Linked DNA regions of Homo sapiens: regions 1 and 2 are each linked to region 3. Evidence: fine-mapped expression QTL. A gene starts in region 3. Each other region holds a variant in brackets. All regions are shown on one strand. Distances are between the middles of the regions.

Region 1 (8,182 bases), 40 kb before region 3:
TATTTTTGTTGTTTTTTTCCCAAATATTTCTGATCCATGATTGGTTGAATCCACAGATGCGGAAGACCAGCTGTACTTGTGACTTGCCCATTCATGAGCCAGGCTTAGTTTTACCTATAGCCCCAGCCAGGTGACCCTTATCTGCCTTTGGCTATTAAGAAGGGACTGTTCTTGATGGGGAAAAACCTTCAGGCATCAGTACAAATGATGTTGGTAGTTTAATCAGCAATGAAGCTCAGTCACTTTTAGATGACCTCTGGTTTATTCCTGAAAGCATACAAAACAAGAAGAGTGCTGCCAAACATTTAAAGAAGAAAACATACCATTTTTCACAGACTCAGGAAGAAGAAGAGTAAGGAATACTTACCAACTCATTCTGTGAAACCAGTATTACCCTGATAGAAAATCCCTCATGAAAATATTGATAGTTACAAAAAACCATGAACAAGTCAAATAACATATAGAAAGATTTAGCTACATGGCCAGGTGAGACATGTTTAATACCAGAAAAACAATGTATTTTACCTATTAATAGATGACAGAAGGCAGGAGTCATCTCAAATGATGGGGAAAGAGCATTTGACAAAATCTAACACATATTCATGATAAAAATGGAAAAAAACTGGAATAGAAGATAATTTTTTCAGTCTGATAAAAGGCATCCATAGGCCAAGTGCGATGGCTCATGCCTGTAATCCCAGCACTTTGTGAGGCCGAGGCGGGCGGATCCCTTGAGGTCAGGAGTTTGAGACCAGCCTGGCCAATATGGTGAAACCCCGTCTCTACTAAAAATACAAAAATTAGCCAGGCGTGGTGGCAGTTGCCTGTAGTCCCAGCTACTTGGGAGGCTGAGGCAGGAGAATCGCTTAAACCCAGGAGGCGGAGGTTGCGGCAAGCCAAGATCGCGCCACTGCACTCCAGCCTGGGCGACAGAACAAGACTCCATCTCAAAAAAAAAAAAAAAAAAAGACATCCATAAAAAGAAGTTACCGATAACATTATACTTACGACGAGAGAATATACCCCTAAGATCAGTAGTAAGTCAAGGGTGTCTATACACACCCCTCATTATTGACATTGTACTGCAGTTTCTAACCAGTGCAATAAAGCAAGGAAAAGCATCCAGATTGGCAAGGAAGAAATAAAGTTGTCTTGCTTTGCAGATGACATAATTCTGTATGTAGAAAATCCTAAAGGGTACATATAACCACACTCGTGTGCACACAACGGAGCTGATGAGTTCAGCAAGGTTGTAAGATACAAGATGTATATACGAAAATTAGTTGTATATGTCTATATTGCAATATAGCAATAAATTGTGAAAACAAAACTAAACAATACTGTCCACAGTAGCATCAAAAAGGTCAAAATAGAGCCGGGTGCGTTGGCTCTAGCCTGTAATCCCAGCACTTTGGGAGGCCGAGGTGGGAGGATCACGAGGTCAGGAGTTCGAGACCAGCCTGGCCAACAGGGTGAAACCCTGTCTCTACTAAAACTACAAAAATGAGCTGGGTCTGGTGGTGTATGCCTGTAGTCCCAGCTACTTGGGGAGCTGAGGCAGGAGAATCTCTTGAACCTGGGAGGTAGAGGTTGCAGTGAGCAGAGATCACGCCACTGCACTCTAGCCTGGGCAACAGAGCAAGACTCCATTTCAAAAAAAAAATCAAAATACTTCAGAATAAATTTGACAAAAGTGCAAGATTTGTACACTGAAAACTGCAAAATATGGCTGAGAGGAATTAGTGACTACATAAATGGAGAGACATTCCATGTTCATAGGTTAGAAGACTCAAGATGGCAGTCCCTATCAAAATCCCAGCAGGCTTTTTTTCAGTAATTAACAAGCTGATCCTAAAATTTTTATGGGAATGCAAAGGACTCAGAATAGTCAAAAAAAAAATCTTGAAAAATAACAAATTTGGAGCATTTCCAAATGATAAAATTTACTATAAAGGTGTAGTAATCAAGACAATGTGGTATAAGGATAGACATATATATGTATATATCAATTGAAGATTTGAGGGTCCTGAAATTAGCCCTTAGATTCATTCTTAATCAGTTTTGCTCACAGGTGCCAAGGCATTTCAATGTGGAGAAGATTTGCCCTTTCGACAAATGAGGCTTGAAGCATTGGATATTCACATGCAAAATGATGGATTTAGATCCTTATATTTTCCACAAAAATTAACTCAAAATGGACCATACACCCAAATGTAAGAGTTAAAACTCTAAAACTTAGAAGAAAACATGGGCAAGAATTTTCATGACTCTGGGTTGGGCAAAAATTTCTCGTGTGACACCAAAAGCACAATCTTTCAAAGGTAAAATTGATGAATTGGTACGGTGCGGTGGCTCACACCCGTAATCCCAGCACTTTGGGAGGCCCAGGCAGGTGGATCACGAGGTCAGGAGTTGGAGACCAGACTGGCGAACATGGAAAAAGCCCATCTCTACTCTAAAAATACAAAAAAATTAGCTGGGCATGGTGGGCACCCGTAATCCGAGCTACTCAGGAGGCTGAGGCAGGAGAATCACCTGAAACCACGAGGCAGAGGTTGGAGTGAGCCAACATTGTGCCACTGCACTCCAGCCTGGGCGACAGAGCGAGACTCTGTCTCAAAAAAAAAAACAAAAAAAAAAAAACTAATGAATTGGACTTCATCTAAGTTAAAAACTTGTGTCTCATAAGCCACCATTAAAGAAATGAAAAAAATTACAGATGGGAAAAAGTATTTGCAAATCATATTGATAAAAGATTTATATCTAGAATGTATGAAGAAATCTTCAGGAAGTAATTCATGTAAAAGACAAAGGATTTGAATAGATATTTCTCTAAAAGAAGATATAAAATGGCCAATAAACATTGAAAAGATGCTCAACATCTTTGGCCATTAGAGAAATACTAATTAAAAGTATGAGATACCACTTCTCTCACACTAGGGTGACTATAATAAAAGATAGTAAGAAGTGTTGGTCAGGGTGTTGAGAAACTAGTTGCAGCCCCTTTGGATAGCAGTTTGGTAATTTCCTATGGTAAATACAAATTTACCATATTCGTAGGAATAGACCCATGTGAATTTTAAAATATATGTCTATAGGAAACTTGTAAACTAATACTTGTAGCTGCATCATGTAGTTCATATAGATCTTTGTATCTCTATTCTTGGTGCCAAACTGGAAATAACCCAAATTTCCATAAGCTGGTGAATTGATAAACACAGTAGGTTATATACGCACAAAGGAATCTTGCTCAGATATGAAAAGTGACGAAGTACATGCTACAACATGGATGAACCTCAAAAACTGATAAAATGAAAGAAGCCAAGGGGAAAATACCATGTATTGTATGGTTCCATTTATATGAAATGTCCTGAAGAGGGAAAACTGTAGGGACAGGAAGTGGATTAGCAGGGGGCTGGGATTTGGGCTGCCTGTGGACAGTAGCTGCGAATGGGCACAAGGAGCCCTTTTGGGATGAGGGGAATGTTTAAGATTGGTTAAAATTACTAAAATAAGTAGAATAGGTGATTTTATGACCTGTATGTAAATTCCACCTCAATAAAGCTGTTCAAGGCTCCTGAGATGAGACATGAATTCTAAAAGGAAAGTGTGGGAAGAAGTTTATGATTGTGGTTGTGGGCTGGTGCCTTAGAATTTGTTTTTTGCTTTTGTTTGAGACAGGGTCTTGCTCTGTCGCCCAGGCTAGAGTGCAGTGGGTCAGTCTCAGCTCCCTGCAGCCTCTGCCTCCCGGGTTAAAGTGATTCTCCCACCTCAGCCTCCCAAGTAGCTGGGATTACAGGCACACGCCACCATGCCTGGCTACGTTTTGTATTTTTAGTAGAGATGGCATTTCACCATGTTGGCCAGGCTGGTCTCAAACTTCCAACCTCAGGTGATCCTCCCATCTCAGTCTCCCAAAGTGCTGGGGTTACAGGTATGAGCCACCGGGCCGGGCCTTAGCACTTGTATTGCTAACAAGCTCCCAGGTGGCGTGTTGCTTCCATTCAAAGCCCTGGGACTAGACCCAGTGCCCTGTGTGATAGGATATCCACTTGTGTCTGAATGAGGTGAATGCCTGAGGGGGGCCCTGATCGCCATGGTGCTCCGGGTAAAATCTGGTGACCAGTGACAGGGCTGAAGTCCTGAAAAGCTAAAGGTTTCCCCTTTAGGAAAGAAAATGGTGAAAACCAAAAGATCCTGAGGAGGAGGCTGTCATGAGTTGCAAAGCTCTTGTTGAAAAGCGCGGGAGGAGTGGCTGAGATCAAGAACAGGAACACAAGAAGCTACAAGTGCTGGCTGAGCTGGGCATCCAGGCACAGCCACGGAGATGCGCTCCCGGAAGCAGCTTGTCACTCGGCCTGTGGACACTGCAGGGGACAGGGCTGAGTGAGCGAGACCGTGCTGCAAGGCCCACAAGTGACCAAGCGCTCAACGAAGTACCTTGGCCCTGGGCAGGCCCTCCTGATGCTGGAAATCCGGTCCTGCCTGGAGACTCAAGGAAGGTTAGCCAGTGAGAAAGGCAGATCCCAAAGACATGGCCCACAGACCAGAGTGCAAAAGGCCGAAACCAAACCCCAAGAATACAAGCAAAACAGTTAAGCTGAGTATAGACCCTCATGCAGTTTATTTTCACTCCTTGTAGTTCTTTATCTGAAATCTGCTTTAGGTGAGTTTAGCTGGGAATTAAGTTGGTTGTGCTAGGGAGGGCACTGCCCTCAGGGTGGGAACTGTGAGGAGGTGGACTTGGGTCATCGGGCTGTGGCCAAGAGCCCCCTTTTTGTTACTATTGAG[C/A]GGTCTCACCAGGATTTCCCTCCATCAAAATTCGGGCCGGACGTGATGGCTCACGCCTGTAATCCCAACTTTGTAATGGGGAGGCTGAGGCAGGAGGATCATTTGAGGTCAGGAGTTCGAGACCAGACTGACCAACATGGTGAAACCTCATCTCTACTAAAAAATACAAAATTAGCCCGGCATGGTTGTGCATGCCTGTAATCCCAGCTACTTGGGAAGCTGAGGCAGGAGAATTGCTTGAACCTGGGAGGCGGAGGTTGCAGTGAGCTGAGATCATGCCATTGCACTCCAGCCTGGGCAACAAGAGTGAAACACTCTCTCAAAAAAAAAAGAAAAAGAAGTTCAAGACTAGCCTGGGCGACATGGTGAAAATACAAAAATTAGCTAGGTGTGGTGGTGGGTACCTGTAATCCCAGCTACTTGGGAGGCTGAGGCAGGAGAATCACTTGAACTTGGGAGGTGGAGGTTGCAGTGAACTGAGATCACGCCACTGCACTCCAGCCTGGGCAACAAGCAAGACTCCGTCTAAAAAAAAAAAGAATTCAGGCTACTGCTGTGAGAAACCGGCTCTGCCAAAGAACCTTCCAGAGCCCACTTTGGAGATGGGAGGAAACTCGTTTGTGCATGCTCCATGCATATATGCCCTGCACCATGTTTGTGTGGATTTGAAATGTGCTGGCTGGAGCAAATGTGAGAGCACACAGATGACAGTGTGGAGGGCCAGAAGCAGTGGTGGTCATCTGACATCTGTGGTTCTGTGGGGTGTTTTGAAAGTTTTTTTGAGAAAAATTAGCTATGGAGGCGATCTTACAAGTCAGCCCAGCACCAGGGTCAATTTATATGGGAAAATATCCCATCAAGGTCCTGCACAGGGCCGGGTGCACTCCGTAGCGCGTCCACTGACACCAGACCATGCATGGGGCTCGCCCGAGAGTCAGGCCTGGCTCTTCACGTTCCCTTGTGCTGCCTCCTTCCCGTGTCCAAAATGGACATGGATGAGAGAAGGAAGCAAAAGGTATGTTTAATCCTTTGCTGCCAAAGTCCCTGGACTTTGAGGGAGAAACAGATCAAACATGTCAGAGGCCTTTGGGGTGGGGAAAGGGAAAGTCATTTGCGAAACAGAATGCCATCCAGGAGCAGATGCTAGCAGGGACAGTCTGGAGGCGAGATGTTACGGAGGCTGTTTGGGATAACAATTCATATGGATTTCAAGAGTCTCTTCTACTGGAATCCCTTGCTGGAGGGAGCACCTTATTTTTGCTGTTCTAATGCCTTCTGTGTGTGTTTTTGGTCACAAGGTTTCTCCATGTCAGGTTCCACTGCTGTCATTCAAGGGATATTCTCGCTTTACTGGTGTGACTGGGGATCCCCTCTATATTTCCCTTTTGGTGTCCTTTGCAAGCCACCCTAGGCCCTCCCACTGTTTCCATGGACTGCATCATCTTTGTGTGAGCTAGCGGTCAGTCCAGTGCCAGCTCCAGCCTTGTCCCCACAGGCAGTGACTGCCAGGGCCCTGTCTCCTCTCAGGCTTGGGACATGCATCTTTCTCCAAGATCCACCCAAGAATGATAGCAGGGGTCCAGATCTAAAGGGAAGATGTGCCTTTGGGGCTCCAATGGGCCTCACTCTCCATTCTTATGTGTCCATGTTTGCCCTGTCTCAGTTTTTGAGGAGAGCAACTCAAGGTCATGCCAACCACACTCATTCTGTTGTGAGAGCTGTGCTTTCACCTGAATGCTCTGTATATATTTGAAAATCTGTAGTGTCACGTGCAAATTCAAGTTTTAAGAATGCCTGTACTACAGTGAAGGTGGAGTGGCTGCGCTTGGGAACTGGTTACTTTCTTTGTACAGCAGAAGAACTGTGAGATGGGCTTGAGGCCAAGGGAAAAGGGAATTAGAATGATGCCACTGTCTGCCTCTGACAGGGAAAACCTTAACCTGGACGTTATACCCCGTGTCACAGAAGACTCAGGCAGCAGCCATTCCAGACCTGCTTTGGTTGATTTTATGTCTGTCTGTGTGTGTGTGCTAGCCCCACTGAGTATCAGTGATATTCTTATCTAAATTACATGCCAAAGAATAAAGCCAAGTGTCTGGCCTAGGCAGGGTGTTTTCCTCTCTATTTTGGAGAAATTGTGGTTATAGCAGTAATGAATAACAGTTAATGGATACACAGCAGCCATGCTGGATTGGGAGGCTGCCTCCGAAAGTGCACCCCCGCCCCCAGAGACTTTGTTATAAGTTTGAGATTGCCTTTTTAAATCTCCATTTGATAACTGATCCAAAGAAGTTCTTAGAATTGCTAGGCATGGTGGCTCACGCCTGTAATCCCAGCACTTTGGGAAGCCAAGGCAGGCGGATCACCTGAAGTCAGGAGTTCAAGACCAGCCTGACCAACATGGAGAAACCCCTTCTCTACCAAAAATACAAAATTAGCTGGGCATGGTGGCGTGTGCTTGTAATCCCAGCTACTTGGGAGGCTGAGGCAGGAGAATCGCTTGAACCTGGGGGACACAGGTGGCGGTGAGCTGAGATCGCACCACTGCACTCTAGCCTGGGCAACAAGAGTGAAACTCCGTCTAAAAAAAAAAAAAAAAAGAAATTCTTAGAATTATGATTACTTGATAGTTGCTGTTAAGAAGTAGAATCTAATCTACCAGGGTATCTTTGAATGAAAGTCTCTTAAGAATAAAGCATTGTTTGGATTTGTGGGTGTGAGGACCTAGAGAGACGCTTGGAAACTCTCACTTAGGGGAGACGGGCACAGAAATGTCTTGACATGGAGCATACATATGGGGATAGGACCTTATGCTCGGTTATAATTTCCTTCCTCGTGTTGTCTGCGGATAGCTACTATCAAGACAGTGCCGCTTATAAACACTCTCCAAGTGAGTACCAAGCTGGCTGGACCTCCCCAGGATCAAGCTGCCTCAGCTTGGAATTTTAGAAGCACCTCTTGGAAGAAGCCAAGATGGAGAGAAATTTTGTGTAGGCCAGGAACGTTCCAAACACCTGGAAGCCAAAGTAAGCTTAGCTGTAAAAGTAACGTTCCAAACACCCGGGAGCCAAAGTAAGATTAGTAAGATTAGCTGAGCACATCTTACTAACACCCAACAAAATAAGGACTCAAGGAGAACTGTGCCTGCCCAAGGGCACTGGGCAGGAGCCCAAGTCATGCCCTTCTCATTGTAGTAAGAGCTCAAATTTAATGAACCACAGAACACAGGCACACACAGGGACTTCGATCCATGTGTATGTTTTCTATATAGAGCATAAAATTCTTCACAGTCACCTTACCCTGACAGGCATTGTTACCACGCCCGTGTTACAGAAGGGGCAGGCTGAGTGTGTTGGGGGGGAACTTAGCCTGTGGTCTGAGGATCTAAGGA
Region 2 (8,182 bases), 440 kb after region 3:
CCATTTTCCCCACTGTGGCCGCCCCTTCTGTGTTCTTGACAAAGCATGTTTCTGCCTGACTGCCCATGCCAGTCCACACAAAAAGACCTCCAAGTACGCTTGCCATTGATGGACAATATACATGTTTATAGAAAGCAAGCAAAGAAGCTACGGTTTCTAAAACATTCCGCAAGAGTGAGCGCATTGTTGTCCACCCACCACAGTCTGCCTCCGTCCCTGGCGCAGAGCTCCAGGGGCCCAGAGGGTGGCGTTTCTAGCAGCCTCAGCGGTCAGCCCAGGCCAGGCCTCCCCAGGCCTCTGCCTTCCTTCCCTATGGAAGCTGCGGAGGAAGCACCTCCTCACTGTGGGCACGCTGGAACCCCAGGGAGAGGCTGCCTGGTCACACCAGAGTGAAGTAACTGACCAAACTCAGCAGGGAAGGGCAACAGGAAGCCCAGAACCAACCTGTGCCTGCCATTCCCGACTCCCCGCGGCCCTCACACAGCTTCTCCGCCTCTGAGCCCTTGAGGTCAGCTTCTGGGGCATTAGTTTGCTTTGGGTGAAGCTGTGGTGGGGACCAGGCTTCTGTGTGGAGGGTGCTAAGGGCCAGAGGTAGCAGCAACAGCTTTTCCCCAGAGTGTCTCTCTGGATGTCGCTGGTGGTTTCAGGGCTGCTTGATTCCTGGCTAGGTAGTGTCCAGGCTGGGTCTCTGTTCCAGAACTTGTGGAAGCCAACTAATATAATTTACTAAGACCCATCCAGTTTTTTTCTTTTTTTAAAGTGGATTTTGTTGTCTGCAACCAAGAACTCTGACCAATGTTTCATCCTTCAGGTTCTGAGACATCACTACACTGGGGAGATACCAGCACACACCTCAGTGCCAGGGCCCAACGGCATGAAGCATTTGCACCCAGCATTGCACACGCAGCATTTACAGCCTGCATCATACATGTAGCATTCACACTCTGCATTATACATGCATCGCCTACACCCAGGATATGATACACCCTGCAGCATACGTGTTTCACTTACATCCTGTATCACACATGCAGCATATATACTCTGCATCATACATGTATCATTTTCACGCTGCACTGCACATGCAGCATTTGCACACTTTATTGTACATGTTAATTATAGGCTGTCTGCCTCCCACATGTTTTTGACAGCAGAGCCTGCTCTTTTCACGGCTATACACCCCCTAGAGCCCAGGCTTATCCCTGCCACATGTTTGATGCTTAGTGGGGCCACCTGCCTTTTCCGCCAGCCAAGCATCCTTTCTTTACTTTTCCCTTGCCCTATGTGGAGCCCAATCGGTTTGGTTTGACTGGGGTGTAACTAAAAATATCCTATTAACTGCACTGTCATACAGGTTCCCAGGCCCACCCATAGCCTCAGACCCCAAGTCTGTGTTAGGTCTAAGGATCTAGCTCTGTAACTTGGACAGTCTAGACACAGGTGATCCCAGGACCACACTAGGAACTAGGCAGATGCTGGTCTTCAACCTCGATCACAAACCTAATTATCTGGGGTTCAAAACCACAAAGCCTGAAATTCGTGTTCAGTTGGGCTGGAGTGTGGTGAAAGTGCTGCTTTAAGTTCCTCTGAATTTAAATGTGCAGCCACGCTTGTGAACCACTGTGCAGCTTCCAGAGGTCTCACTGCTCCCCGCAGCCCCTCCTCAGCCCCCTGCCGGTGGGGGGAGTCTCCAAGACCAGCAGTCAGCCTCCAGCCTCTTTTCTCAGCCTCCTCAGACACCTATTAGGTCCTGTTTGGCCTTTTCTTAGGCCATGGGCGCTTGGAAAATGAGGACGCTGCAACAGCATCAATGCAGGGACACTGATCCAATATATGCAGAAGTGGGGGTGATTGGGACTTATCCAACAAGTTCCCTGTGCCTGTCTAGGAACCTTAACCACCAGCTTTAAAGAAAATGTCCGCTTGGGATCCTCCCGCCTGCTTCTGCTAGGTGCCACTGCTCAGGTTGAGCAAAGTCTTATCGAGCCACCTCAGGAAGCTAAGGTCCCCAGCTTCCCTGATTCCACAGGGTCTGACGCTCCAGCCTCATCATTGAAGCCTTGCTTGTCTAATGCCCCCAGGCCAGGACACCCACCAGCTGTGAAGCCTGCAAAAAGGCCGGGATACCTCCAGGAGCCAGGCGGGGATCCTCAGCATCTCTCCCTTCCCACTGCCGGCCCCTGCAATGCAGACACACACTCACACTTTCACGTGCCATACACACAGTCACACACACCACACGAACACATGCAGACTACACAACACACACTCACATACACCACACACAAACACATGCACACAACACACAAACTACACGATGTACACCACACCCCCCACACACAGACTACACAACACACAACAAAGACATACACTACACACAAACACATGCACACAACACACACACACAAACTACGCAATGCGCACCACACCCCCCCACACACAGACTACACAACACAGAACCCACATTCACATATACCACACACAAACACAGGCACACACCACACAACACACACTATACTAACTACACAATGCACACCACACACACAAACACACAGACTACACAGCACGCACACAACAAACACATGCAGACTACACAACACACACAAAACACACATCACACATATGCAGACTACACAACACACAACGCATACATGCACCACACATAAACACATGCACACACCACACCCCACAACCACCCAACAACCTACACAACACACACACACCACACAAACTACACAACGCACACACACTACACACAAACAGATGACACAACACATGCCACACACAAATACATGCAGGCTACACAACACCCACACACATACATACACCACATGCAAACACATCCACACAACACACCATACACAACAAACCAACACATGCAGATTACACAACACACACACCATACAAACACATGCAGACTACACAAAACACACACCTCACACCACACATACACAGACTACACAACACACAACCCACTCACATATGCCACACACAAACGCATGCACACACCACACCTCACAACCACCCAACAACCTACACAACACCACACACACACCACACAAACTGCACAATGCACACCACACACAAACACACACACACACCACACAAGCACACACTACACAACAAAAACCACACACCACACACAACATAGAAACACACACACTACACTACACACAACACACATACTACACAACACATACTTATATTCATACATGCACCACACGCACAGGCACACACATTACACACCACACACACATACCACACACACACTACGCACTACACAAAACATACATTTTACACACATTCTACACACATTCTTACATTCCCACACAATCACACATGCACAAACATGCACGTGTAAATACAGAGACAGACACACACGTGTATGCACTCTCTCACACACACACACACACAGATGGCAATGCTCAGAGAGCTGGAACACTCCAGGCTAGCTCCATTTCCCAGCGCCCCTGAGCTGGGGGCTGGGGTCTGTGCCACACATGTGCATGCATGTGCGCGCGCGTGTGTGTGTGTGTGTGTGTGTGTCCTGCAAGCTGGAGGGCAAGCCCCTCCTCTGTCAGGAGGCCTTTGCCCCACCCTGCATGCTTCCAGTCTTGCTGCCCCTCCATGAGAGCAGCTGTCATACTTGTCACCACTTCTATCTTCTGTTCTTCCCTCTCTCCTAGATTATAGGCTTTTTGAGGACAGATATTTAGTCCCATTCATCACTGTGCTCCCAGTGCCAGTTCTGGGCCTGGCATGGCAACATTAGTTAATGGATTAGATAAAGAAATCAATGAATGATAGTTGGGAGGGACAGAGAGAGGGAGGGAGAGCAGAAAGTACTTAGTTGTCCAAACCATATGTTCTAGTTTCTTTTTAAAGGGCCCTGGAATTTACTCTCTATGTGACAGAGTGCATGGCAGAAAGAACACTGATAAATGTAGCAAGTTTATGTTGAAAATTTCATTAAAAGTGACAAGAATATAAATATATGTTGCTTGAATAATGAGTGGATCTTATCTTCCACTTTGTGGATGCTCACAGCATGGCTATTGTCCTGCAAATTTAGGAGAGCATAATATAATACCAGCAGCAGTATTTAAAAATTCTAGGTTAACACAGAAAACACCTTGCTTTCTTGACATCTGAATCAAATAAGATTGATAGTGAGAGAAAAATAAGACTGTTTTCATCTTAAATTCTCTTCCAACATAGTAGAAAATGAATTGAAAATACCAGTAACTGCCGGGCACAGTGGCTCATGCCTGTAATCCTAGTGCTTTTGGAGGCTGAGGCAGGCGAGTGGATCACCTGAGGTCAGGAGTTCAAGACCAGCCTGACCAACATGGGGAAACCCTGTCTT[T/C]ACTAAAAATACAAAAATTAGTTGGGTGTGGTGGTGGGCACCTGTAATCCCAGCTACTCGGGAGGCTAAGGCAGGAGAATCACCTGAACCCGGGAGGTAGAGGTTGCAGTGAGCCGAGATCGTGCCACTGCACTCCAGCCTGAGCAACAGAGTGAGACTCTGTCTCAAAAAAAGAAAGAAAGAAAGTGCTAGTAACCAAAGCGGTAATTGGCATAAAACATTCCAAATATATTGTCAGATCCCCAAGGCATCAGAAGCAACTGATCAGCAAGGAGCCCGAGGGAGGTAAACCGGGCAACCACTTCAAATCAGCCTGTCCTGCCTACAGAAAACTGCCTTGTAAGGTTCTGAGATCCCTGCTGTACACACAGATACACACACACACACACAGTTTCTTTCTCCACCCTTTTCTCAGGGTCCTCTTGAGCTTCAGGACCACAGAGTTGCTGAGCCTACACTTCTACTGTCTCCAGCTTTTGGAATCTAGCCAAAGTGGCTGTCTATTCTCCCAGGGCCCTGGTCCCTCCTGCCCGCTTGTATTAAGCAACCAACTGTCGAACATTTTAATTTGGTGAATAAAAATCTCTTGACCCTGGAAGACTGTAAGTGAGATGAAACCTTGTTCTTTCTCTGCATTGTGGCTCTGCTGGGCACATCTGGCCACCTCTACAGCTCCAGCCCCGACCAGGAGGGTCATCAAGCTGATACCCCCAGGTAAGCAGGCAGGTCTGGATGCAGGACTCCCCAGGAGAACTTCCAGGGCTCCTGAGTGCCAGGTCCTGGCATGGGGTGGTTGTGGCATGCCAGGGTGAGACTGAAAATAGTCTACACATCCTGAATGTTAATGTGCATTTTAATTATGTGAATTTTAAAAATAAAAAGATCAGTTTATGTGAGTAATTTGAAAAAAGATAAATCCTCCCCTCCTCAAGAAAGGTCAGGAACTTCCATCATGTCAAAGCAGGCGGAAGTGAGTAAAAACTATGTTTCTACCGCGTGGGAAGACAGAAACAACCCTCTGCATCATGCCTTGAAACTGGCTTGAGTGAAGGAAAAATCTCACAAATGTGTTGCTCAAGTGTAACAGAGATCCAAGCCTTCTGGAGAGTGGGGAGCAAGGTCTGAAGGCAGATGCAGAATCCAATTTGGGATGAAGGAAGGGGAATTAGGGGAGATTTACCTCTTCAATGGCCAGGAGGTAATATGGAGCAAATCAGACATATCACGGAAGGCTTCCTGCAGGAAGGACCACTTGTCTGGAACATGTGTGGGATTTAATGTGGTAAGCAAGGAGGCAAACGCTTAAGGAGGGGGGACAGCAAAAGCCCTGTGGCAGGAGGCAGCATGACAAGAATGAGCTTTCTGAAGGTGGGGAGGAGACAGCCGAGAGAGTATGGGTGTGACAAGGCAGAGGTGGCTGGAGCCAGGATACACAGGGCACTTAGGCCGTGCAAGAGTGTGGACTTCACCCCAGGAGCTGAGGAGCTATAGAGGGGCATTTTGAGAAGACTCCTTTGGCTACAGTGCGAGGCATGATTGGGAAGAGTGAAGTTGTGAACGATGCATGACTATTATGGAAATTAAAGAGAAAATTAGAAATGAGAAGGCCCCAGGTGCAACCCTGAGTAAAACCAGAGGCATCTGCAAAGTAGAGCAAAGGAGTAGCAGACAGGAGAATCAACAGATGATCTAGGGAAAAACAACTGCCCCAAAGCAGGATCCGTACTGGCAGAGCTGGCTGGGTGGTCACGATGGAGGAGAAGGGCAGTGGTGTAGGCACCGAGGACCTGGGCAGCGTTAGCAGGAGGTGCTCTGCTTGCAGTAATGGATTCAAGCTAAATGGGAGAGAGCTGAGGAGAAAGAGAGGAAATAGTACTTTTCTAGGAAGATGAGGAAAGATGGTAGCTGTGGGCAGGAGGAGGATGAAGTTGTCTAAGGAAATGTTGTGCTGTTGTTATTATTGTTTAAAACGAGATGATTTCCCTGTGCTTAAAACCCAATGCGTTTTCCACCTGAATATATTGCATTCACCACACTTACCTTCTCACACTCCTGAAACTCCACTCTAGCGGCAATAAATTTACCAGATTTGAAGGCCAAAGGGATGAAGAAAGCTGGGCCAGCGACATTAGGGAGAAAGACAGCAAGCGTTTGGGAGAGAAGTGGATGGAGGGGTGGAAACTGGCTTAGCAAAGTGGAAGAGGCTGCAACTCGGACTTGCCGAGGAGGGTGCTGACAGTGAGCTTGCTAGATTTTCCTCCAGAACCAAGAAAGGGAACAACATGGGCCCTGGGTATAAGAAACCTGACTCAGGAGCACAGGAAAGCAAATCCCTGGGTGCCTGAGCTGGAATCTCAGGATGAAGCTACGCAGAAGGCTCATTAATGATCATCTCCCCGTCTCCTCCTCCTCCTCCTTTTACTGCCACTGGGAAGCCTGAAGGGTTCACACCAGGAGAATTCTCTCCCATCAGCTTCCTGTCAAGCCCATTCCCATTTGGTCTACAATGCTGATGTTTGCAAACCACATCAAATACGGCTGTCTCCTGGGAACCGGTAAATATTGTGGTTGGTTGGGATGGAAGTGCTGGGATGAGAGGAGGCTTGTTGGAAGAGGGTGTCGAGGGACAAAAAGAGGAAAGAAGCCTGTGTATTTTTGGTAGGGAAAGGACAGATGAAGAAAGGCTGTTTCCCAGGAGAATGTGTTACATTGAGCCATGTGAAATGACCACCTGCACCGCCATTTTTAATGATTAAAATGGAATTTTATACAGTCGCCTAATAAGAATTGTACTTAAGAAACATTGAAGCTCTTCTTTATAAATGCCCTCAGTCTTTCATAAACCCAGCACACAAGCCCATCAACACCATCCCCGCCTCCCTTCCCCACGACTTTCTTGTCTCTTGCTGTCCCAAACAAAAAGGGAAGAAACAAAATGACCAGAGTCCTTCAACTCCAGAAGTCTAAGACAGCTTCTGATCTTTGCTTTAGGACTGAAATCTCTAATTAGGAAAGCCCCCAGATGCAAGATCCTAGTTGTGGCTTTAGGATTTTGCAAAACCAGATAAAAAGCAGAGGTAAATGATAAACCCAGAAAAACGCCTACCTGCAGGGCCTAACCTGTTGTCTGAAGCCCCAAAGGTAATTCAGAATCGTCTATAATCACCTGAAAATAGATGCCACCGTGCTAGAAAAAATCATCTGTAATTCATAAGGAATACAGTTAATTCCATTCAATAAAAGTTGTGGGGACTGCGGGATGTACCAGGGCTTCAATGACTATAATGGGCACATAGGCATTTAAGGATAAATAAAAGGGAAAAAAGGAAGAAAAAGTTTTGTAGCATTATGATTTTAAGTTTAGATGCTCAGGCTAACCAAGAGGAGATAAGTGGATAAATTCAGGAAAAATAAAGTCTACAGCTGGGAGCCATGTGGTCATCTAAAAGTCAGAGTTAAGGGCAATGAGCCACTTGAGAAATGGCAAGAAGTGCTGGTGCCAAGCTCAGTTCCATGAAGCAGGAAATGGCCAAGCCGGCCACCAGCCCTGAGCATGTCTCTCTGGATACAGAGAGCCTGCAGCCCCTAGCCTTCCTCCAGCTTACCCAAGGGATCCTGGGATTTGTGGCTCAAGGTTTTGGAGTTCTATGTGCTGTATTTGCATTGTCTGGAAAGAGAATAGTTTAGAAAAAAGCCATTCCTCATTGAGACCGCAGGCTCCAGGAACAGCAACATGATTCCAAACCAAGTCCATGGTATTTCTATGTGCAGTTTCCTGCCACCCCACTTGCCTAATGAGAAGATAACCCAGTTCCTTCT
Region 3 (8,182 bases):
CACATATGTGCCACTGTCCAAGACCTCTCATATACCACACAAATTCAAAGATAAATTAAGAATTTTGGCTGGGTGCGGTGGCTCACGCCTGTAATCCCAGCACTTTGGGAGGCTGAGGCGGGCGGATCACGAGGTCAGGAGTTAGGGACCAGCTTGGTCAATATGGTGAAACCCCGTCTCTACTAAAAATAAAAAAATTAGCCAGGCGTGGTGGCGTGCACCTGTAGTCCCAGCTACACGGGAGGCTGAGGCAGAAGAATCACTTGAACCTGGGAGGTGGAGGTTGCAGTGAGCTGAGATCACGCCATTGCACTCCAGCCTGGGCCACAGAGCGAGACTCCATCCAAAAAAAAAAAAAAAATCACCAGGCTGGGCAACAGAGGGAGACCCCATCTCTAAAAAATAATAATAATAATAATAAAAACAATTAGCCTTGCATAGTGGCATGTGGCTATAGTCCTAGCTACTCAGGAGGCTGAGGCGGGAGGATCCCTGGAGCCCAGGAGTTGGAAGCTGCAGTGAGCTATGATCCCACTACTGCACTCCAGCCTGGGTAAGAGAGTGAGATTCAGTTTCTAAACAAAAAACAAAACAACAAAGACTGCAACCGCAGAACACTGAGCCCCAAGTGAGTGCAGGGCCCTGTGCCTCTGAGGGTCTGCATGCCTAGGAAGCCGCCCTGCCCCCGACATCGGCAGCAGGAAGTGCGATCCATTCCTGGATGGAGGTTGGGTGAGTTCCCCAGGGCAGGCAGTATTAATGCGAATGACCGTTAATTTTCTCGGGAGGGTGGCACCGTCAACTAATTAGGAATGCTGTCTACTTTGGCTCATTGTGTGTTCAAGGATAAGATGACAAAACAAAATAGTCTGGATGATTTTGAGAGCTTAGCTGCATTTCATTCCTCTTACCTCTGAGTTTTAACGTAAGTCAGGGGCCTCCTCATGCAAGATTTATACTGCTCACAGTTCCTCTCAATTTTTTCCTCCGATTTGTCTATCCATTTTCCCCAGAGGACAGTGAATCGGGGCTCTTGACAGCCTGCTTCACCTAAGAGCGCCAATCAATCCTCCCGCAGGGTTTCCACTGAGCTTTGGCTGCTAAGTACATTTACGCAACCGAGCCGACGGGCTGTGCCTGCAGGCAACGGCGTCCGCCAATTTCCGTTCATTTAACGGCGAGACTGGGGGAGCCCGGGCCGGCAGGCGGGTCCTCAGGAAGCGCAAATTTCACCTTCCCTGACTCCTCTCACCGCTAGATTAAAACTGCGCCCCTCGGTGGCTCAAGCCTGTAATTCCAGCACTTTGGGAGGCAGAGGTGGGTAGATCACCTGAAGTCAGGAGTTTGAGACCAGCCTGGCTAACATGATGAAACCCCGTCTCTACTAAAAATACAAAAATTAGCTGGGCGTGGTGGCACGCGCCAGTAATCCCAGCTACTCAGGAGGCTGAGGCGGGAGAATTGCTTGAACCCGGGAGGCGGAGGTTGCAGTGAGCCGAGATCACGCCATTGCACTCCAGCCTGGGCAACAAGAGCGAGACTCCATCTCAACCAACCAACCAAACCAAACCAAAATAAAACAAAACAAAAACCTGCGCCCCTCCTCATGGCTCTTCTTTTGGCATAGCACCTGCAAAATATCTTCCTTATTTATTGTTTGTGCCCGTTAGAACATAAGCTCCAGGCAGGCACAGGAGCAGGACTCAGGGGTCGGTGAACGTGACGGGAGTCCAAAGTCAGTGGGGGATCCATCTTGTCTTAGGAGAGCAAAGACCTTCTCTCTGTCCTCCCCAGTTCCATAGCTGGCTCTATGAAATTAACTGCCAACGGGCAGATGAACGGGGGGAACGGGAATACACATTTATTAATCTTTAATATCACCTGCATGGGGGCATTGCAGGAAACTAGGTGAAAACCCCCCAAACCAGTGAGCTTTGAGAGCTTCTAAAATTGGGGAACTGGAAGCTGGTGTAGGCCACTTAGGGGAGAGTAACTGATTTTTAGGAAAGATGCATAAGTCTTTATGAGTTTGTGACAAAGTTTGTCTAGGTGTGGTGTGGACTTCTGCTGTGATAAGAGTCCATCCTCCCGGGAGGGAATTTACGACAATCAGTTTCTTTTGGAGGTTCCGTCTTTAGACAGGTAAGGGGAGAACGTCTCTCTGCATTTGCTATTTTTCAAGTGCCTCTCGCTCAAAATAATCAATATACCAAAGCGGCATATTTTAGGATGGCATATTTTGGTTTCATTCACTGTCTTTAAGTTTTTGATATTTTGTTCATTATAAACTTTTTTTGCATTCATTTTGACTTTTTAAGATATTGTATTAAAACATTATTTACCTTGACTACTGAGTTTTTTTGTCGCGCCCTTAAATTTTGCCCCTATGCGAGTGCCTCGCTCGCTTGCCTCCTTCTAGCCCGGGTCTGGCAGGGAGTTGAAATTATTTTTCTCACTGCTGAATTCCCAGGGCCTACAACAGTGCTCGCCAAAAAATTAATACTCTTGGTTCTTCAAATAAAACATTCTGTAAGGACTGCTCCCAATTTCTTCCTGAACTTCACGAACCCTCCCAGCCAGGCCACAGGATGTCAGGGGCAAACACCCTGAACCAACGGAGCTCAGGTTCCCTACCACCCCGCCCAAGCCCGCTCCAAGCCCAATTACCCTTCCCCTTCCTCGTCGTCCCATCCTCCCTGATGCCTCTTCCAGGGTGCTGGGCCGCGCGGCAAGAGCTCCAAGGCAAGATTCAAATGCCCTGGGGAGACGGCTGCGGGACACCTGCGGCGGGGCCCGGCAGGGAGCGCGAGACTGGAAGAGAGGCCAGGAGGGAAGGAGAGCGACGCGGGGTTTTGGGGGAGGGGCTGCGTGGGGCGCTGAAGGGGAGCGCGAGGAGTGGGAGGAAGTGAAGGAGGAGGAAGAGCACGGTGTGGGGGAAGCGCAGGAGGCAATAGGTGGGGCGGGACGGAGGGCAGGGCGCTGCGTCGGGAGAAAGTGTAGAAGCGCTGGGGAGAGTGCCCACGACGGGAGAGCCCAGGGGCGCGAGGGCGCGGGAGTGTGGGCGGGGCGCAGTGGGGATGGGGGCGGGGGCGCGGGATGTGGTAGGGGGCGTAGTGGGGAGAGAGTGCAGGAGTGTGGGCAGGGCGCAGTGTGGGGAGGGTGCGGGAGTGTGAGCGGGGCGCAGTGGAGGGAGTGCAGGATGTGGGCTGGACAACCAGTGGGAGAGGGCGCGGGAGGTGGGCGGGGCGCAGTCGGGATGGGGGCGGGGGCGCGGGATGTCGGCGGGCCGCAGTGAGGGGGAGGGCGCGGGAGTGTGGGCGGGGCGCAGTGGGGGAGGGAGCGGGAGTGTGCGCGGGGCGCAGTGAGGGGAAACTGTGGAATGTGGGCGAGGCGCAGTTGGAGAAGAGTGCGGGGATGTGGGCGGGGCGCAGTGAGGGGAAACTGTGGAATGTGGGCGAGGCGCAGTTGGAGGAGAGTGCGGGGATGTGGGCGGGGTGCGGTGGGGGAGGGTGCGGAGATGTGGGCGGGGCGCAGTGGGTGGAGAGTGTAGGGATGTGGGCCCAGCGCAGTGGGGGACAGTGTGGGGATGCGGGCGAGGCGCAGTGGGGGCGGGGGCGGGGATGTGGGCGGGGCGCAGTGGGTGGAGAGTGCGGGATGTGGGCGGGGCGCAGTGGGTGGAGAGTGCGGAATGTGGGCGGGGCGCAGTTGGGGAGCTTGCGGGGAATGTGGGCGGGGCGCAGTGGTGGGAGGGCGCAGGAGTGTGGGCGGGGCGCAGTTGGGGGAGGGTGCAGAGACCTGAGGGCTTGAGGTTGCCTGGCTGGCCCCGCTCCCAGAGGCGGGTGCCGCGCTGTCGCCCAGGTATCTGGGGTCTCTGGTGTCTGAGTGTCTCATTGTCGGCGCGAACACAATTGCTCCAGCCACAGGCGAGGCCTGGCCAAGGTGTGGGCGCATCTGGGGCAGGTCTTGAGAGGTCCAGCGCCCGGTGGTGCGGACAGAGGCGGGGCACCGCGGCGCTCGCCGCCGCCTCCCCGCAGGTGATCATCCTCCTGCAGGTGTCCTCGGGTCTCAGGTGGCTGCGTGTCTGCGCCATGGTTGACATTCTGGGCGAGCGGCACCTGGTGACCTGTAAGGGCGCGACGGTGGAGGCCGAGGCGGCGCTGCAGAACAAGGTGGTGGCACTGTACTTCGCGGCGGCCCGGTGCGCGCCGAGCCGCGACTTCACGCCGCTGCTCTGCGACTTCTATACGGCGCTGGTGGCCGAGGCGCGGCGGCCCGCGCCCTTCGAAGTGGTCTTCGTGTCAGCCGACGGCAGCTCCCAGGAGATGCTGGACTTCATGCGCGAGCTGCATGGCGCCTGGCTGGCGCTGCCCTTCCACGACCCCTACCGGCAGTGAGTGGGGGTCCTGGGGGGGCGGGGGCCGCCCGGCACGTCTCCCCCATGTTCCCCCAGGCCTCCCCCTCTGCACTGGGGAGCTCTTTATGACGCCCCCCCCCAACACCTCCCCGTCTCTCGGTTCACGTCCGGACTCCGGTAAATCACACTCAGTCTCAGTTTCAACCTCTCTTGGAGACCAGGGAGGGTGCAGACCAGATTCGAAAACCCAGGGCATCGGCACCCCAAGGGGGCTCGTGGAGCATGGACGCGGGCGCGTTTCTGCCTGGGGTCTGGAGCTCCGGGAATCTGCATTGCGAAGGAGCTCCCAGTGGTGGTGATGCTGTGAGTTCGCGGGCTCGGCTCCGGGAACCGCCGGCCCAATCAGCCCTGGACTCCCGGCGCCGCTGCGTCATCCTCCCAGTTAGTGGGCAGGAAGCACAGGGACATGACCCGGTGTCTGGATGCGGGGATGAGGGATGACCCGCGAGGACATCAGCTCTGTGACAGGCACCCACAGTGCAGGCCGTGGTTGGTTTGCTGGGAGGGAGGGACGGGGGCTTCAAGGCTGGCAGGAACCCAGGTGCTGGCCACCTTTGCGGTTTCATTTTTACCGACACTGATGGAATTTCATCACTAGAGAAGCATAAAACTCATTACTATAAACTTTATTACTCTAACTGTTGCAAAGGAGGGGGTAGGGATTGGCAGAGAGGGGATTACAGGGATTGATTGTTCTGCTTTTGGGGTGGGTCTCCTGTGGTCTCCTATGGTGTAAGAGTCCAGACTTAGGTTTAAAGCAGGCCTCGTCAAGTATGTTGTCCTGGCCACCCCCTTCTAGGTACCAATGTGAATTTCTGGGTTTTGCTTTACAGCCTCACATTTCTGGAGATTATCATTAAGTTGTGGCATTACCCCCTAAACTGATTATCATGAGATGACATTCCTTCTGGAAAATGAAAACTGGAAGCTAACTTTGGAAAGTTTTGTAGATGAGTAATTAATGGGAAGAAATCTAATTATTCCCCCAAACATGATTTTTGGTGATTCCCAGTGAAAGAGGAGGCCCAGGCAGGGCACCGCCCAGCCTTCCAGGGGGGTAACCTGCTTCTGGGAGCCTCACTCACACCGGGACTCTGAAAGTTCTATTGATAATGAATCTCCAAGATGGGTGGTTCACTTTGCAAAAGGATTTCTTACAGAATCAGTTCAAGTGGTGCTTTTAAAAACAGGATTGGACTTGTTTAGTACTCAAGTTATTTGTAAGCTTTTGAAAGAACGCAGGTTTGAAAGCGAGAGACGATGGCAGTATCATTATAGTAATTAGGCACAAAGCTCTGGCCCAGCTCTGGGATTTACTTGCCAGGTGATGGCAGGCAAGGTATTTTATTGCTGAGCATATGATACATCACGTGGTTGTTGTCAGGGTTGAGCTGATCACATATGAGCTCATGTGTCCGCTGGTTATGTCCCAGCTCTCTAGTCTATTGCCCCATTTTACAGATGTGCCATTGAGGCATAGAGTTCAGTTCTCCTGGCTCTGAGGACCCTCTTTCTGCCGTGCCCTACTTCCTCACTGAGGGGGTGGTGAGTCTTGGTCCCCAGCGGCACACAGATTGGACTGGGGAGGTCATCGCTTGGGGCCATGGAGACTGCTCGTCTGTTTCTGATGCTCTGGTCAAGCCTGTGAGCTCCAGCTGGAGGCAGTGAGCTGCGTGACGTGGGTCAGCTGTGTGCTCCTATCTTCTCAGCCTGGCTGGCCTGGGAGGGATTTTTCTTTTTGTAAACTTAGCTGTTTGTCCCTACCCCTTTCCACACTGAACTTCCTTAACTCTGTTGTTGTCATGTGTAAGCTAGGTAGTGGGATATTCTGTGGGAATTGTTGGAGCTACGCCCTAAATTCTGCTTATCCTACGTCTACAGGACCTTGGTGTTCCCATCTGATTGGCTCTTGGTTCAAAGACCAATCCGGTTTAGCCATGCCTTGCTCCAACTCTCCGGGGGTTTCCTGAGTTTCCATTGCCCACAGGACAGAGCCAGACATGGTTCAGTGCCTGGCATCCCCAGGGAGTGTGTTTGGTGAGTAGTTGAAGCAAGTGAGCAAAAGACAGTTCTGCAGAGAGATTTGCTTGGCCACAGCCTGCTCCTGGCTGAGATGACAGACTAGAGTCAGGAGTTGCCATGGCAACCCAGAAGTGTGGTTTATGCCAGCAACAAGGATGTGGCTGTGTTAGTTGAAGGCAGGGACCAACGCTGGTTGCAACAGTGCTGAGGACAAGGAGGAACTGGGCTCTTGGATTTTCCCCAAATGCTTAAAGTCCTAAGTTATTACCATGACAACATTCTCTCCTCCAAAAGCAAGTTCTTTTCTCTGTGGACACAGCTCAGGGCCCAGAGGGGATTGAGATGACATTAGGGAAAAAGTGAGGTTCTTTGCCTCTCATGTGCAGCTCCAAGGTTACATTTGTCCCCAGGCAGAGGCTGCCAGCATGGGGATTTGAGGGCTGGTACTGAGTGTCTCTTGGAATATCAGTGAAATGACCACCTCCACCCTCCTGATTCCTCAAAGCCCAGCCTGCTCTGCATCCCCCTGACTGTGTTAGAGCTTGATTTAATGTTGCAAGTGATTAAAACAGCAGCAATGAGAACAACTCAAAGAGCTTGAACAGTAAAGGTTATGGGCTGGCTTTAATGAGACACCCATCAGCCAGAAGATGGTGTCAAGGGCAAGCTGGAGGCCACGGAGGATGCAGCTTTGTGGCTCGCCTTCTGCCACGTCTGCCCCTTGCTCAGGCTGCAGGCAGTTGCTGCCTGGCAAATCCTGTGTCTCCTCACGGTGGCAGAATGGCTGCTGTGTCTCAGACTGCGCATTCCTGTACTTTCCTCTTTCCCAGCACACAGCCAGGTGCTGCACCACGCCTCATTGATTCTGATTTGGCTAGTTCCCCATTTCTGTACTATTAAGTGTAGCCAGGGGCCACCAGATAGATATGCTGACTGAGCAGTTGGCCCAGGTGGAATTGGAGGTGGGTCTTTCCCACACAGTAAGAACAGCTAGCATTTATCAAGTACTTATTATGTGCCAAGCCTCATTCTTCATTAAGCTGTTTATTTAATCCTCACAACAACTCCAGGAGGTGGATTCTGTTATTCCCGTGGTGTAGATGAGGAATCCGAGGTGCAGGAGGTTAACTAGCCTGCCCATGACACACAGCTAGTTCATGCCAGAAAATGAAGGAGACATGGTTTCCCAAGGAGGGTCACAGATGCTGAGCAGCAAACCACAGGCCTGTACTCCCCGTGCTGTCAGGGGCACCATGCCCAGCCTCCTCTCCGCTTGCTGTCTCCTACCTCCTCCCAGTTGGTGCAGGGGATGCAGAAAGCCCTGGAAGACTGCTGTGGGATTGGCCAACTTGAGCAAGCATAAACCACCAGATCTTGGGCACTGCCCCAGCGTCAGAGGTGGGGAGATTGCATTTCTGATGAGTTTCCAGGTGATGTTGGTGTTGCTGCTCCTGGGACCCCATATTGTTCCTGACAGTGCTGGTCAAAGGCTGGTGCATGGACCCATGTCAGTTGGGAATCTGTCAGGAGTGCAGATGCTGTCGGACCTGGGGGTGCTCAGGAATCTGTAGGTGAGATACTGCTGCTGCTGCTGCTGGCATCCCAACCCCTTCACGACCCACCAGCAGCCCTCCAAGGAGTCCTCATGGCCTTGGGGAAGAGGTTCCAGGTTCCTGAGATAACAGAGTCCCACCTGGTCTGGCCCCAGCCGGACCGTCTACTTTCCTTTCTGGAAGTGACGTGTGC

The links. PIP is the estimated chance that this variant, and not a neighbour inherited with it, causes the effect.
Region 1: its variant is the best candidate, but not a certain one, in a credible set for the expression of NXNL2 in tibial nerve (GTEx, PIP 0.69).
Region 2: its variant is the best candidate, but not a certain one, in a credible set for the expression of NXNL2 in lung (GTEx, PIP 0.65).

Annotation. Positions count from the first base shown.
Region 1 is chr9:88,491,129-88,499,310 of GRCh38, forward strand. No RefSeq gene overlaps it. Among named protein-coding and RNA genes, the nearest start is that of NXNL2, 40 kb to the right of the region's middle. RefSeq lists an enhancer at 4,356-4,897. The variant C/A (reference allele first, on the strand shown) is at 4,792.
Region 2 is chr9:88,971,338-88,979,519 of GRCh38, forward strand. It overlaps the pseudogene PCNPP2. Among named protein-coding and RNA genes, the nearest start is that of S1PR3, 16 kb to the right of the region's middle. The variant T/C (reference allele first, on the strand shown) is at 4,364.
Region 3 is chr9:88,531,347-88,539,528 of GRCh38, forward strand. NXNL2 (nucleoredoxin like 2) reads left to right here and starts at 3,832. Exons shown (of 2, transcript NM_001161625.2): 1 at 3,832-4,390. The coding sequence starts at 4,089. LOC105376134 (a long non-coding RNA gene) reads right to left here and starts at 3,194. Exons shown (of 2, transcript XR_007061653.1): 1 at 2,668-3,194. RefSeq lists enhancers at 3,618-4,452, 4,453-5,286.